Regions from separate parts of the Homo sapiens genome. Here region 1 is linked to region 2. The links come from fine-mapping of genetic effects on gene expression. Tissue or cell type: left ventricle. Region 2 holds a variant in brackets; the other region holds the start of a gene. All regions are shown on one strand. Distances are between the middles of the regions.

Region 1 (8,085 bases), 87 kb after region 2:
TCAAAAGTTGTGCGTGTGGTCTCTTCCCACAAATCTAGAGTCCACCTGCAACCCTGAACTGGGTAACATTGAACAAATTACTTACCTTTTGTTCTTTAATCTTAATTTTTGAAACTGTAATAAAATATATATAAATTCATCATAACTGTTTCAATTAGTACAGTTCAGTGGTATTAAGTACATTTGCATTGTGCTACCATCACCACTCTCCATCTGCAGAACCCTTTTTCATCTTGTAAAATTGAAACCCTGTACCCATTATACAGTAATTCTTCATCTCCTCTGCTACCATCATTTTACTTTCTGTTTTGATTAATCTGACTACTCTAGGTACCTTATATTAAGTGGAATCACACCGTACTTGTCCTTTTGTGACTGGCTTATTTCACTTAGCACCGTGCCCTCAAGGTTCATCCATGTTATAGGATGTGTTGAACTTTTTTCCTTTTTTAGGGCTGAACAATATCCCATTGCATGTATATACCACATTTTATGTATCAACCCATCCATTGATAGACACTTGGGTAGTTTCCACTTTTTCACTATTGTGAATAATGCTGCTATGAACATAGGTATACAAATATCTCTTTGAGACCCTACTTTCAATTCCTTGGATACACATCCAGAAGTAGAATTGCTGGATCACATGGTAATTTTGTCTTTAGTTTTTTGAGAATCCACCCTACTGTTTTCCATAGTGGTTGCACCATTTTACATTCACACTAATGGTGTACAAAAAGCTTCCACTTTCTCCACACCCTTGCCAACACTTACTACTTTCTGTTTTTCTGATAGTAGCACCCTACTGGATTTGAGGAGCTTTTTATTTGCATTTCCCTAAAATTGGTGATGTTCAACATCTTTTCACATACTCACTGGCCATCTGTATGTCTTCTTTGGAAAAATGTCTGTTTAAGTCCTTTGTCCATTTTAAAATTGAATTTTGTGTTGTTGTTGAGTTGTAGGAGTTCTTTTTATGTTCTAGATATCAATCTCTCATCAGATATATAATTTACAAATATTTTCCCCCATTCCATGGGTTGCCCTTTCACTCTGCTGACTGTATCCTTTGATAACTACCTAATTTTTTTCTCACCTGAAGTCTGGGCATCACAGCAGCTCTATTGGGATGATTAGAAGATAACATACAGAAAATACAGTGTCAAACAAAGTTCCTCTCTCTTTGTAGAGGAGAAAGTCCCTCCCACCATTACAGGAGTGGGATGAAGAGTAGGGGCAACTAGCAAGGATTCCACCAGTCAGTAGAGTTTGAGATCAATAGACTTAGGTTTGAAGATGACCTTTGCCACTTCCTAGAGAGACATTTTGTTCTCTGGGCCTGAATTTTTTACTGGAGGTGCCACCACAAATGGTGTTGTTAAGAACTGAGAATGGGTGTCGTTAAGGACTGAAAGTGCCAAGCACTGAGCAGCTAGCTCCTCTATCCATCTATTCATACACTCAACAAATACCCAGAGTGCTCACTGTGTGCCAGACAGTGTTAAGTGCTAAGGAAACAGACAAGAACTGCTATGCTTACAGGCCTTACATTCTATTGGAGGAACGGGAACAGACACAAAATGTATAGTCTGTTAGACGGCAGAAAGGGCTATGACGAAAAATAATGCAGGGAAAGGGAAGAGCAGAGTAGGCAAGTGGTCCTAGAAGCCCACTAAGGAGGAACTTGGGCAAAGGCTGAAGGAGTTGAGGGAGCAGGCCATACAGTCACCTGGGCAGAGGGTTTTACAGGAGGAAGAAGCAGGGAGTGCAAAGGTCCTGAGGTGGATGTGTGCCCGTGGTGCTCTGGATGCAGCAAGGAGGTCAGGGTAGCCAGAATAGAGGTGAGATCAGAGAGGTAACAGGAGACTGAAATGACCCCTCCAGGCCATTTGTAAAGACTTGGTTTTTACTCTGAGTGAGATGGGAAGCTATTAGAACCTGGCACAATAAAAGGTGGCAGTATTATTGAAATGTCTCAACTCTAAACTTGTTTGAAAACTCCACAATTATCTTTTTAAAAATTCAGGCAACTTAAAACACTTCTGCTTTTGGATGAAATCGTATCCACTTATGGCAGTGATGATATAATTGGAATTTCTGGGCTAGCACACTGTTACCAATGATACCAGAGCTGTGGCTCAGGAGTTTATTCATCCATTTATTCAGACTTGAGGATAAAAGACAAGAGTGACACATATAAGAAGCTCAAGGATAGTGGAGGAAGACAAATATACATAAGCACAAAAAGTCACTAAAGCACCATGACAGACAACTGTATCATGTGCAAAATGACCTCACAAAACAAGGGAGGTGAACTGAGCTTTCAGGTGTGTATGTTGGGTAGGGGACAGAGGGAAGTACCTCCTTTTGGCTGAAAGGACACTGCATGCAGAGGGAATAGCTTAAAGAAAGGCCCAGATGTTGAAATATGATGGCGGTTTCTGGAATATGCAGGTGGTTTAATAGGGCTGAAGAAGGGATGATGTTATAGCTAAAATCAGCATTGGTCTGATCATGGGAGACTTTGCAGGCTATGCTAAGAAAATATACTTTATCTGAGGGAAATGGAGAACATTTGGAGGGTTTTAAGGGTGACAGTAGCATGACTACATTTGCACTTTGCAAGAATAATTTTGACAGCAGTGTGGAGCATGCACTTGAGAGGTGTAAGGGGAGGGTGGAAGGAAAAGACAATTCAAATATGAGATAAGGGCCAGAGGCAACACAGTAGCAATTGGGAGAAAAAGGAGACTAAGAACAAATAGACATGTAGGTGACACAAAGTAAGAGCCCAATAAATAAGTTATATGTCAGGAGAGATCTAGAATAATTTTCCAGTTTCTAGTGACTATTTTGCACTACGTACACCATTTTGGAGGGGTAAGTAACCCCTCCCTTTGAAGAGGGATGCCGTGTTGAGTTTTTTTTTTTTTTTTTTTGAGACAGAGTATTGCTCTGTCGCCAGGCTGGAGTGCAGTGGCACAATCTCGGCTCACTGCAACCTCCGCCTCCTGGGTTCAAGCGATTCTCCTGCCTCAGCCTCCCGAGTAACTGGGACTACAGGTGCCCGCCACCACGCCCAGCTAATTTTTGTATTTTTAGTAGAGACGGGGTTTCACCATGTTGGCCAGGGATGGTCTCGATCTCCCGACCTCGTGATCCGCCGGCCTCGGCCTCCCAAAGTGCTGGGATTACAGGCGTGAGCCACCGTGCCCGGCCATGTTGAGTTTCTGATATGCATTTAGGCCATGTTGAGTTTTTGATATGCATTTAAGATCTCTGTGTGAAATTCAATTAAAGATGTACAGACAGCTGAACAAATGGGTCTGAAAATCAGGGAAATAAATTTGCGTTGGGGATTTAAATTTGAGACTATAAATCATGAAAGTGGTGAGATTGTCTAGGGACAATATTTACCATGAAGAAAACATTACTAGAATAGAATCTTGAAGAACATCAACATTTAAGGAGTAAAATGAGGTACAGACCTTGCTCACCAATGTGTCATTAACGCCTAGCTTGGTGCCTGGAAAAAACTGGATGCTCAATAAATGTTTGTGAGGTTATAGATCGATAGAGGAAGAGAGGGAGGTAGAAGTATTTGTCATAAAAATAGGAGAACTTGAAGACAAATAAGGTTCTGGAAGAAAGGAAAGTTTCAAGAGAGTGCATTGGAGAATGTCAAATGCTACCTTGATCAAAATGAAGACTAAAGAGAGTTCCCTTGATTTAACAACCAGACCGAGAATATAGCAGGGTCCTAGCAAAGAGAAGTTAACGCCTGAACTGACACTTGAAGGACAATCATTTTACAAACAAGAGGAAACTTACTACGTGCCTAATTAACCATGTCAGGTACACTATGGTTAATTCCACAAATGCTTGTTAGTTAACGAGGAGACTGGCAGATGATAACGCTGCAGACCAGGACCCTCCCCACCCTTATATTCCCCTACCTCAGCGCAAACTCTTTCCCCCAGCACCACCGGCCTCTTATCCAGGCAGTCCACGCCGGCCCAGGAACGTTCCCAGAACTACGGCTCCCAGCAGGACAAGCGCCAGACAAGCCTGGACTCAAGAGGATAGACTGGGCAAAAGCGCTTCTGGGAATCGTAGTTTAGGGCGCCGACCTCAAGATCCAGGCTGGGCACGCTACCCGACCAACTCCTTACTTGAGCTCTTCAGCCGAATACATCCCGAAGGAAATGCCCTGCAGCCGCCGCCAGGGCATGTTCTTGGAGATCAACATCCTCCAGGTCCGTTTTGAATTCCGACACCCCAAGAGACGTTCCACTCACCACCTGACTATTCTTAATTCAACCTCAAGCCCGGAGTCACCACGCGATTCAACGTGCGCTTGCGCGCGGAAGCGGTCGCAGGAACGACATTTACGTGGATGAGATCACTTCTACATGGGGGGGGAACAAATAGTTGTACGACTCTCTGCTCGCTCTTTTGTTTTGAAAACAATCAAAGATATATAAGACATCAAAATAATCATTTAGGAAAATTCCTCCGAGGCAAATCGGGTGTATAGAGCTTTTAGCTTCCGTGACGAAGTCTTTCAAACCATGAGCTTGCAACCTCCCATTTTATGATTGCTTTCGTCTTCTTCCGCTTCAGCCAATAGCGGAGCTGTTCCCTGCTCCCCGCCCACTGCGCCCCACCTTCCTGAAGGTCGAGGCACGCTTTCCCAACATGCTCTGCAGAGAAATCAAAGATGGCGGTTGTATCTGCTGTTCGCTGGCTGGGCCTCCGCAGCAGGCTTGGCCAGCCGCTGACGGGTCGGCGGGCGGGTTTGTGTGAACAGGCACGCAGCTGCAGGTAAGAGACGCTTAGGGTATCCGCGAAGAAGACCGCGGAGTCACCTTAGTCCTATGTTTCCCAGCTGGCTGTGGAAGTAGGCACGATGAAATGGTTTGCTCATGCGCGCCCTTAACGGTCGCGTGCCCTTAAGACCAGGTACGCGGAGGTGGCCCTTTGAAATAGGATTCGCAACGCATTTATTCATTAGAGAAATACTTATTGGTTGCTTGCAATATTCTGTAGTTAACACCATCCGCAAAGCTAGGACCCTGCTCTCATGAAGCTTGCGTTCCAGTGAGTGTGGCTATTAGCAACACTACCCCAAATTAAAAATTATCCGCCATTACTCATTTTAACCCAATCAGGAGGAGCGAGGAGAACGTACAAGATCTTCCCAAATAAAAGGCAGTCTCTGGTCGCCACCGTGGGGACTTTGGCTAAAGAAGTTATCAGGTTTTCGTAAAAGCAGAAAAGTCTAAAAGATCTGACTATGCCCTTTTGATCTGTGATAGTTATAGCTTGGAACATGTATGACCTATCTGTGTAATTTTTTTTTCACTCAGTACAAACAGTGGCATTGTGGGAATATGAGAGGCAGTAATTTGTAGTGAAAACTTGCTAAAAGCCTAATTTTAGGTTTAGTGTTTGCCATTCACTTAATTGGATGATAATAGACAGATTTCCTCATCTGCAGACTAGAGTTGGTAATAACCATCCGAAAAGTTTGTGAGGTATAAGTGGGGTATGTAATTTACAATATGTTTTTATATGTACTCTCCCTTAGTTCCCCTCAAGAAAGAGAAACCACTCCATCTGATACTGCAGAAACCTTTGTGCTGCCATTCAATGCCAGTCCTCCGTTTCCTGGTAGCCATCGTTAGCATTTTTCTACTCATTTTCTTTGCCTGAAGCAGAATCTCTTCCTCAGCATCCGTTCTCAAAATAACTGTGATCTCTGTTTTAAGGTCATGAGAAACAAATAGTGTGACTTGAAAGAGTTGATCTCAGAAACTTGAAAGAGTTGATCTCTTTCTGAAATGTCCTTAACGTAGAGGGGTATTCTTGTTTTAAATGATACCTGAAACCAGATACTACTGGAGGAAGTATCTGTCTGTGCAATCACATCTTGACAATTTTCTGAATGTTACTGATGCCATTTAGTAAGGGGAAACACAAGATAATACTAACCGTCACATTATCTGTGGTGTGTTGACTGTGTTTTTAGTGTGATCAGAACACTTAAACAGAACACTTAAAAACTCAGTCATGGGCCAATGATTCTATATTTTGGTTTAAAAAGGATTTCATATTGAACCTCTGAAAATAGAAAATATCAGCAATTCCAAGTCTAAATCAGGCCTTATGTATTTGGTACATTCTTGATTGTTGAAAGAAGTGGAATGAGAAGCCATGGGTCATCTTCCCTATGTTGTAATTGCTTTAAGTGAGGTAGTCCTTTCTGATCAGGGCAGTATCTGTATAGAAGCAAGAGCTCACTGAATTGTTCTTTTAAACATCATAGTGTTTTGGGTTCCTGAAGTTGAAAGTTCTTCATTTCAAACCAGATTGTTCAAGTGCTATTAAAAACTTTCCTCCCTCTCTGCCATTTATGTAATGAGATTGCTTGCTTCCAAAACTTTTGTCTAGCCGGGCATGGTGGCATATGCCTGTAGTCCTAGTTACTCAGGAGGCTGAAGCAGGAGGGTCACTTGAGCCCAGGAGTTCAAGGGTTCAGTGAGCTATAATTGCACTACTTCACTAAAGGCTAGGCAATGGAGCAAGACCCTGTCTCTAAAAAAAAAAAAAAAAAAGTTTTGACAGTCTTGTCCATATCTTGTATCCATTCCTTAATGATATTGAACATGTGTACAGACTGTCTTCTCAGCGTTCATTGACATGAGTTATCCAGTTTAATCCGTGATAATTGGAGAATTTGGGCTCAAAGTACACATAGGTGGAGGTGAGCTGGGTACTTCATTAATGACTATTAGATTTAAGGCTTTTGTTTTTTTGCAGATTTTATTCTGGTAGTGCAACCCTCTCAAAGGTTGAAGGAACTGATGTAACAGGTATATTTTAAAATATATTGAATTCTATTTTTATATCAACACGTTGGATTCCATTGTAGTACTAGGAAACTGATTCATGTTTTCTTTTTTACATTAGGGATTGAAGAAGTAGTAATTCCAAAAAAGAAAACTTGGTAAGTATTCTATCAGTGTTCATTCAGCAAATGGTTGAGTGCTTACTATGAGAGAAGTGTAAGGGTTAGGTAAGGAGACAGTGACAGGAAGAGCAATAGGAGAGCATTCTTGAAGAGAGTAGCTGAGCGGGGAGAAGCTAGGAGTTTAAAGGACAAAAAATGGAAAGGTGGAGAATAGTGAGTGAATGAGCAATGAGATTTACTTAAAAGAACAATTGAAAGAGATTTTGAATTAGTGTGGGTTACTATTTACGTGGTTAATAATACATGGTTATACATGAACATCATCATTAGAATAATTTTTTTCAAGGAAGTTCTCTCATATGATTCAAGAGCAGACAGTTACTGTCTTTATTATCTCTAATGAGGTAAAAATAAAGTAAATGGTGTGGACAGCAAAATTTAGCTTTTTTATTCACTGGATATATCCTTGAACAAATTGCCTCATCTCATTTATTCAACATTTGTTGAATATGCAGGAATTAAAACTTCACAAAAGTGCTTGTTACAGTGTAGTCCTATTGAACGCATTTAGTGGCCCCTCAAAAAGCTAGGTCTTAAAATTATGTGACCTAAAGACTCGGGTTCGCCAGGCGCGGTGGCTTACGCCTGTAATCCCAGCACTTTGGGAGGCCGAGGCGGGCGGATGATGAGGTCAGGAGATTGAGACCATCCTGGCTAACACGGTGAAACCCCGTCTCTACTAAAAATACAAAAAAATTAGCCGGATGTGGTGGGGGGTCGCCTGTAGTCCCAGCTACTCGGGAGGCTGAGGCAGGAGAATGGCGTGAACCCGGGAGACGGAGCTTGCAGTGAGCCGAGGTCGCGCCACTGCACTCCAGCCTGGGCGACAGAGCAAGACTCCATCTCAAAAAAAAAAAAAGACTTGGGTTCATTTAAAAAGACTTTTTTAAGAACTTTATTAATCTGAACTGTGTGATTATTTTAGGGAGGCCAGGGAGCCCAGTGATGTCAATGCATAGGTAACTGGGATCATAAAAGAAGTGCAAATTAAAACTTACCGTATTGGCAGAGAGAGGATTTGAAGAAATACGTTTGTTTATGGGACAGTAAAT
Region 2 (8,104 bases):
AGTAGAAGTGGGGAGGAGCAGTGGAAAGGGTGGGGATGAAGGGGCAAGAGATCAAGAGGCAGCTGTTCCATGGATCAACCATAGGGTAGATGTGGGCCATGGGAAGGGATGGGCCTGGTCACCAATTAGCTGCAGATGAAGAGGCAGTTTCTGGCCTGGATGATGATGAGTTGCACAAATAGTTCTCCCCTTGACAGAGACGTGATTGACTCCCAAGCCTGGGCAGGTCCCAGGTTCCAAACAGAACAGAAGTCCCTGAATCTTATTTCTACCACATTCAGTTGGTCAAAGCTAGTCACAGGCCAGCCCAGATTCAGTGCTGGTGGGGCCTACCTGACGGTGTGAATACAAGGAGGCTCAAGTCGCTGGGATCATTTCATAACACCCCACCACCACATCCAAGTTCCAGACAGGAAGAAAGGGAAAAACAAAGCCAAAGGCCAGAAGCACTTGCCACCTAGCTAGGCCTATCCTTTTGAACAAGCTTTCCCCGAAGTCTCATTCAGTGCCTTCCTCTGGTCCAGAGAAAGAAATGGGTCACATGACTATCCCTAGCTGCAAGGGAGTCTGGGAAACAGTATTTTAACCTGAGCACACTGACACCACCAATAAAATCCAAATTCTCAGTAAGGAAGAAGGAGAGGATAGATCTAGAGGAAGCAACTAGCAGGGCCTGCTTCAGAGGCCATGGAAGAGTTGGGGGGAACCACCACCACTAAGTGCTTTTATGGGAGAGAAGCCATGCTCAGCATGCACCAAATTATGAGAAAATGGAGAGGCTGGTTCATTAGGTCTGGGGTGGGGTCCAAGGTGTGCATCTCCAACATGCTCCCAGGGCTGCTGATCCTGGCAGTAGGAAGATCACACTTGGAGTGGCCCTAAACTGGGTTATACTGGGGTCACAAGCAACCCCACATGTCAGAGGTTTAAATAGCTGAGGTTTGTTCCTTACTCATGCAGCCTGTGCACTGTGAGTTGGCTGGGGCTTTGCGCCTGGGAGCCAGGTGGCCAGAGCATCTACCATCTGGAGCAGCACTGGTGACCAGGCCAGAGGGAAAGAAGTCATTCATGGCAAAGAATTAAGCAACTCTTAGAAGTCATTCAAGTCAAATGGCCATGCCCAACATCTGGCAGGGAGGGGAAGCCGGTACTGGTGAACCATACTACAGACTATGACAGCTTCACAGAAGAGATGGGATTTAAGCAGAGGGGTCTTTGAAGGATAAATAGGAGCTTACTCTGTAGAGAAGGGGCCAGAACATTCGAGGCTGAGGGAACATCATAAATAACTATAACACCAATGTTGAGCACCTGTCGTGTACCAGAAGCATTCAAATCGTTTCCTGACTGGTCTTCATGAGAACACTGAGATATTATTAGTCCATTTTATAGAAGAGGAGGCTGGGGGTCTGAGATCAGCTGGCCACTTGCTGAAGGTCACAGGGCCAGAAAGTGGGGCCCAGGAAATCAAACCCAGTGTCCTGGCCCTTCCCTCCCCTGCCACAGTGGAGTCATGGAGCCTCGTGACTGTGTGGAGTGTTTGCAGAATAATCTGTGTGATGCTCTTTCTCTGGAAATGGCCCCAACACCCAAAGGGTTTTTTGGGGGTGGATGGGGAATTATTAAGGGGTTGCAATATTTTTTTATTGTGGTAAAATACACACAATGTAAAAGTTATCATTTTCATCATTTTTAAGTGGCATCATTTTAAGTTCAGTGGCATTCAGTACATTCACATTATTGTGCAACCATCATCGCCATCCATCTCCAGAACTTTTTCATCTTTCATAATTGAAACTGCCTCCATTAAACATTAGTTGCCTATTCCCTCCTCACCCCAACTCCTGGCAACCACAATTCTAATTTCTGTCTTTAAGAATTGGAGTGTTCTAAGTACCTTATATACATGAAATCATATAGTATTTGTCCTTTTGTGTCTGACTTTTTATCTTAGAGTAATGTCCTCAAGGTTTACCCATGTTGTAGCGTGTGTCAGAATTTCATTCCTTTTTGTGGCTGAATAAGGTTCCATTGGATGTATATACAGTATTTTGTTTATTTATGCATCGGTCCATGGATACTTAGGTTGTTTCTACCATTTTGGCTATCGTCAATAATGCTGCTATGAGTGAACAAATATCTGTTTGAGTCCCTGCTTTGGGTCCTTTTGTGTATAGACCCAAAAATGGGATTCCTGGTTCTAGAGGAGTTTTTCTGTTTGTTTTGTTTTTTTAGACAAAGTCTCACTCTGTTGCCCAGGCTGGAGTACAGTGGCACAATCTCTGCTCACTGCTACCTCCACCTCCCAGGTTCAAGTGATTCTCCTGCCTCAGCCTCCCAAGTAGCTGGGATTACAGGCGCGTGTTACCATGTCCAGCTAATTTTTGTATTTTTATTAGAGATGGGGTTTCACCATGTTGGCCAGCCTGGTCTCAAACTCCTGACCTGTGATCCGCCCTCCTCGGCCTCCCAAAGTGCTGGGATTACAGGTGGGAGCCACCGCGCCTGGCAGGAGTTTTAAACATACAAGACAAAGGTGCCTGTGGGCTTCGTTGGGGTCTGGGAAAATGCTGCGCAGGAGCACTGCAGGAGGATGCCAGGCCCTAGGATGTCCTAGTTCATCTCCCTTCAGCTGGCTCTGGGGAGGAGGATCTGTGGGAGCCCCGCATCCCATCCAAGATACACAAAACTTCTCTGCCAGTTGTTTAACTGCTTCACAGGCACAGACCTTGTCCCCAAGGAGTCGGAATGTTCTCACGGGAAAACAGTCGATAACACACCCGAGTCTTCCTTTCCTTCATCTATAAAACAGAGGTGCTGGTGTCGCCCGCCTGCCTCACAGACAGTTGTGAAGTTTGAATGAACTAATGCCTGCAAAGGATGCAGAGAGAAGCTGGAGGCTCATTCTGCACCTGCTGCTGCTGTAGGCCTGCCACGCCCAGCCCGCTTGCGGGTCAAACTGGGGCGCTGACAGGAGCTGCTGTCTGCAGAGGCTGGGGGCCTCTGGGGCTATTTCCACAAACCCAGGAGAGTTCTGGGGCTGAAACAGCTAAAAAGAGGGCAGACCAGAGGTAAGATGGCTTCCTCATGACAGTTCTAGGGCCGAGGTTCTCAAACTGGAGCATGAGTGAAAATCCCCCTGATAGTGTTCAAACTCAGATAACAGCCTCCACCCTGCAGTTTCTGACTCGGGAGTCTGGGGTGCGGCCTGATAATTTGCATTGTAACAACTCCTCCTCCTCCGGCTCCTCTTCCTCTTCCTCCTTCTCTTCTTCTTTTTTTGAGACAGACTCTCGCTCTGTCACCCAGGCTGGGGTGCAGTGTCAC[G/A]ATCTCATGATCTCAGCTCACTGCAACCTCTGCCTCCTGCGTTCAAGCAATTTTCCTGCCTCAGCCTCCCAAGTAGCTGGGATTACAGGCACCCACCACCACGCCCAGCTAATTTTTGTATCTTTAGTAGAGACAGGGTTTCACCACATTGGCCTTCTGGTCTCGAACTCCTGACCTCAAGTGATCTGCCTGCCTCGGCCTCCCAAAGTGCTGGGATTATAGGTGTGAGCCCCCGCACCTGGCCTGCATTCTAACACATTCTTAGGGGCTGCCGTTGCTGCTTACCTGGGGACTTCACTGTGAGAACCACTGCTCTAGAAAATGAAGGAGAAAAAGATGTTCATTTTTGAGGACCGTGGACACATGGATTCCCTCCTCCTTCTCTTTTTTCCCTTTCCTTCCTTCTTTGTCCAATATTTAATTGAGCATTAAAATTGGGACTACAGAGAAAAAAAAAAGACAGAGTCTTGGCCTATAACAGAGAGTCTAGAGCTGGGCTGGCCAGATGGTCGCCGGCTGCCCAGGGACCCAGCCTGCTGTGACCGGACGCGGAGGAATCCCAATGAGTCAGCCTGCAGGTGGAAGGGAAACACCGTGTCCCAGGCCAGGGGCCAGGGCAGCTTGCCAGGTCCTGTGAGAGCCCAGGCAGAGCCCGGGCAGCCCTGTCCCTGGGGTTGGGTGGTCCCCAGGCGGCAGGACGCTGGGTGAGGAGCCGGTTTGTGGAAGAGCACCTGCGACAGGGCTGTGCCCGCCCAGGCCAGGCCTTCAGAGGCCACGATGGAAGGTGGATGAGAAGTACAGTGAGCAGGACAGACATCCTATGGGCAGTGGAATGGCCTTGGCTCAAGTTGTTCCATTTCCCCTTTTCAATACTCTGCCCCCCATGCTGAGCCCCGCAGGCTACCTTCCCATGGATCCACCCTCCAGGCTTCTGTAGCCTTCCATTCCCTCCCTCACCGACCTGGCTTTCATTCCTCAGGGGCCTCCTATTTTCAAAGGAGAGAACTAGCCACTTTGATCAGCACGACCTAGGAGATGTCACCCTACACCAGTCAGAACCCGAGGACGATGCCAGAGGTGCCCCACGCAAAGGCACATCTCCAAGAGGGGCAGCAGACCTGGCCTCCCCTTCACCACTAGATCCATTTCTTCAACTGTGAAATGGGGCCAACAGGACATGTGTCGCCGGGCTGTGGGGATTTGATGAGATGATATCACAAAGAGGTTCTTTGTAACTGGTACAGTCCATAGCCAGGTCCTCTCCGCAGGAAAGCCCCAAGGCTGGAAGATCCCTTTGGGTTAACCCACCACTATTTCCTCAAACTCTTCAATATTGACTTGTGCTTTGATTTGGGCCATCACTTGGGAGTCTCAGTTCCTTAAGGTGACTGCTTGTTATTCATTTGCTCTAATTTCATCTCTTGTGAGCTGCCAGCTCCCCAACTAGATAAACTGCAGACCCCACCCCCTAGTAGTCTCGTCTGTACCTCCTAGAGACATACCTTAGAAGAGGTGTTCTGGGGCCTGGAGAGGCATTTGGTGCCCTCACATCTACCTGCCATACCACATGCAGGGCAGCCTTTAACAAAGTCCAATCCTCAGGGTCTGTCCAAGCAAAGGGGGTGGACACAGAGAGGAGATTAAGGACCCAGACTCTGGAGACACCTGCTTGGCTTCAAATTCCTGTTCCACGACTTGATGACTATGTCTTTGGGTGAGTTACTGTAAGACGAGGAGAGTCACCATACTCCCTCACTGGGTGGTTGTGAGGAGTGGATGGATGAACAGGTATAAAAGACTGGGGCCAGCCTGCACCTGGTGAGCTCCAGGTCAAAGTGAGCCCCTGCATTTGTAAGCGAGCCAAGCAGAAGCCACGAATGACGGCAGGGCTGCTTCATGTTGCTCCTGATTTCTGGTAATTTTCTGCTCTTACCACAGTCCCCTCCAGCACAACTGGACATGCTGCTGTAAGTGTAGTCTTCTTATCCATCACAATAGGTAATTTGCCTTTTTAAAAAATTTTATTTTTGAGACAGAGTCTGGCTCTGTCACCCGGGCTGGAGTGCAATGGCACAATTTTGGCTCACTGCAACCTCCACCTCCCAGGTTCAAGTGATTCTCGTGCCTCAGCTTCCCAAGTAGCTGGGACCACAGGCGTGTGCCACCATGCCTGGCTAATTTTTTGTATTTTTAGTAGAGACAGGGTTTTGCCATATTGGCCAGGCTGGTCTCAAACTCCTGGCCTCAAGTGATTCTCCTGCCTCGGCCTCCCAAAGTGCTGAGATTATAGGCATGAGCCACCATGCCCAGCTGTGCTTTTTCAATCAATCTATGTACCTTAGAAAAGGTTGCAGTGAGCCGAGATTGTGTCACTGCACTCCAGCCTAGGCGACAGAGAGAGATTCCATCTCAAAAAACAAAACAAAACAAAACAAAAACAAAACAAACAAAAAAAACTGCTCCAGAAGCCCTAGCCAAAGTCTAAAGGCGGCCACTGGCCTGGGTGGCCAAGAGCTAACATCTTTACTCAAGGTTTTACACAATGCAGGGACTGTGCTGAATTCTTTACCTGGCTTGGGAGAAAAATGTTTAGCACAGTGACAAAAGGTTATCTATATCTATAGTAAATACAATTCTTTAAAATTGACAAAAGCAATACCAATAACCCAATAGAAAAATGGGCAAAGGATACAAATAGGCAGTTCTCAGAAGTGCAAATCAGAATAACCAATAAACATGTGAAAAGATGCTTAGATTTATTAATAGAGAATTGCAAACTGAAGTACAAATGAGGCTGGGCATAGTGGCTTACACCTGTAATCCCAGCACTTTGGAAGGTGAAGGCAGCAGATCGTGTGAGCTCAGGAGTTTGAGCCTGGGCAACATGGTGAAACCCCGTCTCTACAAAAAAATTAAAAAATTAGCTGGGCATGGTGTTGTGTGCCTGTAGTCCCAGTTACTTGGAAGGCTGCGGTGGGAGGGTTGCTTGGTCCTGGGACTTCGAGGCTGCTGTGAGCCGTGATTGCAACCCTGCACTCCAGCCTGGGCAACAGAGTGAGACCCCGTCTCAAAAAAAAAAAAAAAAAAAAAAAGATGCCACTGCTTCATCTATCAGAATGGCTAAAATGTAAATGATTCCACTTTGTAAAATAAACAATGTTAACCCGCATCTATGTGTATGTGGCAGGGTTTCCTCAACCTCGGCATTATTGATATTTGGGGCTGGACAATTCTTTGCTGTGGAGACTGTCCTGTGGACTGTAGTTTAGCAGCATCTCTAGCCTCCACTCCCTAGATGCCAGTAGCACCTCCCTCCAGTAGCAACAAAAAATGTCCGCAGACACTGCTGAATGTCCCCTGGGGGGCAAATTGCCCCAAGTTGAGAACCACTTAGTGTATAGGTAAACATGTATAGTTGTGTGCAATTTAATGAACACAATTAATTTTACCACCATTTTACATAAAAGGAAACTGAAGTGCATTTCTTAGGGTCCCACTGTAAGTTGAGGGCTTGAGATTCCAAGAAAAGTCTTATTTCAGAGCTCAGTGTCTTGCCCAAAACGCAGCCTCACTGCTCAATCACATTCTTGAGGTTTGATTGGCTGAACGCACGTGGAACATCAGGTTCATGTTTCCAAGCAAGAATCATGGGTTGGGGAAGGCAAGTGTTTACTGTGGTCCAGCTGAGGACTGTGGTGTCTGAAACTTTGTCACATGGGAGGCTACAGGCCCGGGGCTGGCTTGGCTCCCGTGAAAACACTGCAGCGGGCAGCCAGTCCGGAAGGCAGCATCTGGCAGGGCCTCCAGGCCTTCTGAGTAAGGAAGACCCCAGCTTGCAAAAGACATAGAGGCAGCACTGTGACTGGAACTGAATAGCCACACCTATATCACCCATATTCAAGGGCAAAGGGCCAGCAGCCAGGGTGGAAGTGGGGGCAGGAGGTGGGGAGGGGATGGCTGGACTCCTGATTCTTTTTCAGTTTCCCTCCCTTCTGGCTGTTGAACACCCAAGTACCTCCCCACTGTCCTCTCCACTCTGTCCTTCCTACAAAGCACCCTCTAGAGTGCAGCCAGCTGGGCAAGGCATGGTCCTATAGGGGACAGTGTGCATGTGCATATGAAGCCTGCTGGGTACCTCAACCTTTGGCCTGATCATGAAGACGGTGAACTGGCTTGTTTGGGGCAGAAGACTACAAGTTCTGTGAGGGCAGGGCCCACATAGCTTGTGCATCTTAGGGTGCCTGGGACACAGTGGAGATCAAGGTTGGATGGATGCAGCATGGGGGAGGGAATGGTGAGGATGGGCATGGTCAGGTATCTGTCGGCTGGGACAAACCTCCCAGGCCATTGAGTCCAACTTGCGCGAAGATAGTCACTGGGGAGCTGCAGTGACACCTGAGCCTGTGAATAAACCAGGTCCTATCAGGGGGCAGTGTGCACATGCACATGAAGCCTGCTGGGTACCTCAACCCAGGCAGTTACCCAGGTACCCTGCCGGGTAACTCAGAGTTGAGTTAAACCCTGCTCCTTGATGACCACTCGTGGTAGGACAGCGATGCTGCTTAAAGAACTTAAGGAACGAATCTGATTAAATAATTATGATTTAGCATTTTAAGTGGAAACCTCTCATGGAGCTGCTTGTAGGAAACGCTGGCTGGCTGAGTTCCCTCCTTCTGCCCCTGCTGGACAAATGGCCTCGCTTGCTGTGCTGGGCTGGCAGAGCTGCAGGCCTCCAGGTTTCTGCTGGAAGCATCATCCCTTTCTTCTTTCAGGCTTT

Evidence for each region. PIP is the estimated chance that this variant, and not a neighbour inherited with it, causes the effect.
Region 1: it holds the start of POLR1A, and the variant in region 2 is fine-mapped to the expression of POLR1A in left ventricle (GTEx, PIP 0.92).

What each region holds. Positions count from the first base shown.
Region 1 is chr2:86,101,528-86,109,612 of GRCh38, forward strand. POLR1A (RNA polymerase I subunit A) reads right to left here and starts at 4,359. Exons shown (of 34, transcript NM_015425.6): 1 at 4,173-4,359. The coding sequence starts at 4,249. PTCD3 (pentatricopeptide repeat domain 3) reads left to right here and starts at 4,708. Exons shown (of 24, transcript NM_017952.6): 1 at 4,708-4,824; 2 at 6,823-6,875; 3 at 6,973-7,009. The coding sequence starts at 4,721. RefSeq lists enhancers at 3,879-3,968, 4,169-4,378, 4,759-5,018.
Region 2 is chr2:86,014,152-86,022,255 of GRCh38, forward strand. It overlaps POLR1A (RNA polymerase I subunit A), which reads right to left. Exons shown (of 34, transcript NM_015425.6): 34 at 6,065-8,104. Among named protein-coding and RNA genes, the nearest start is that of POLR1A, 88 kb to the right of the region's middle. The variant G/A (reference allele first, on the strand shown) is at 3,328.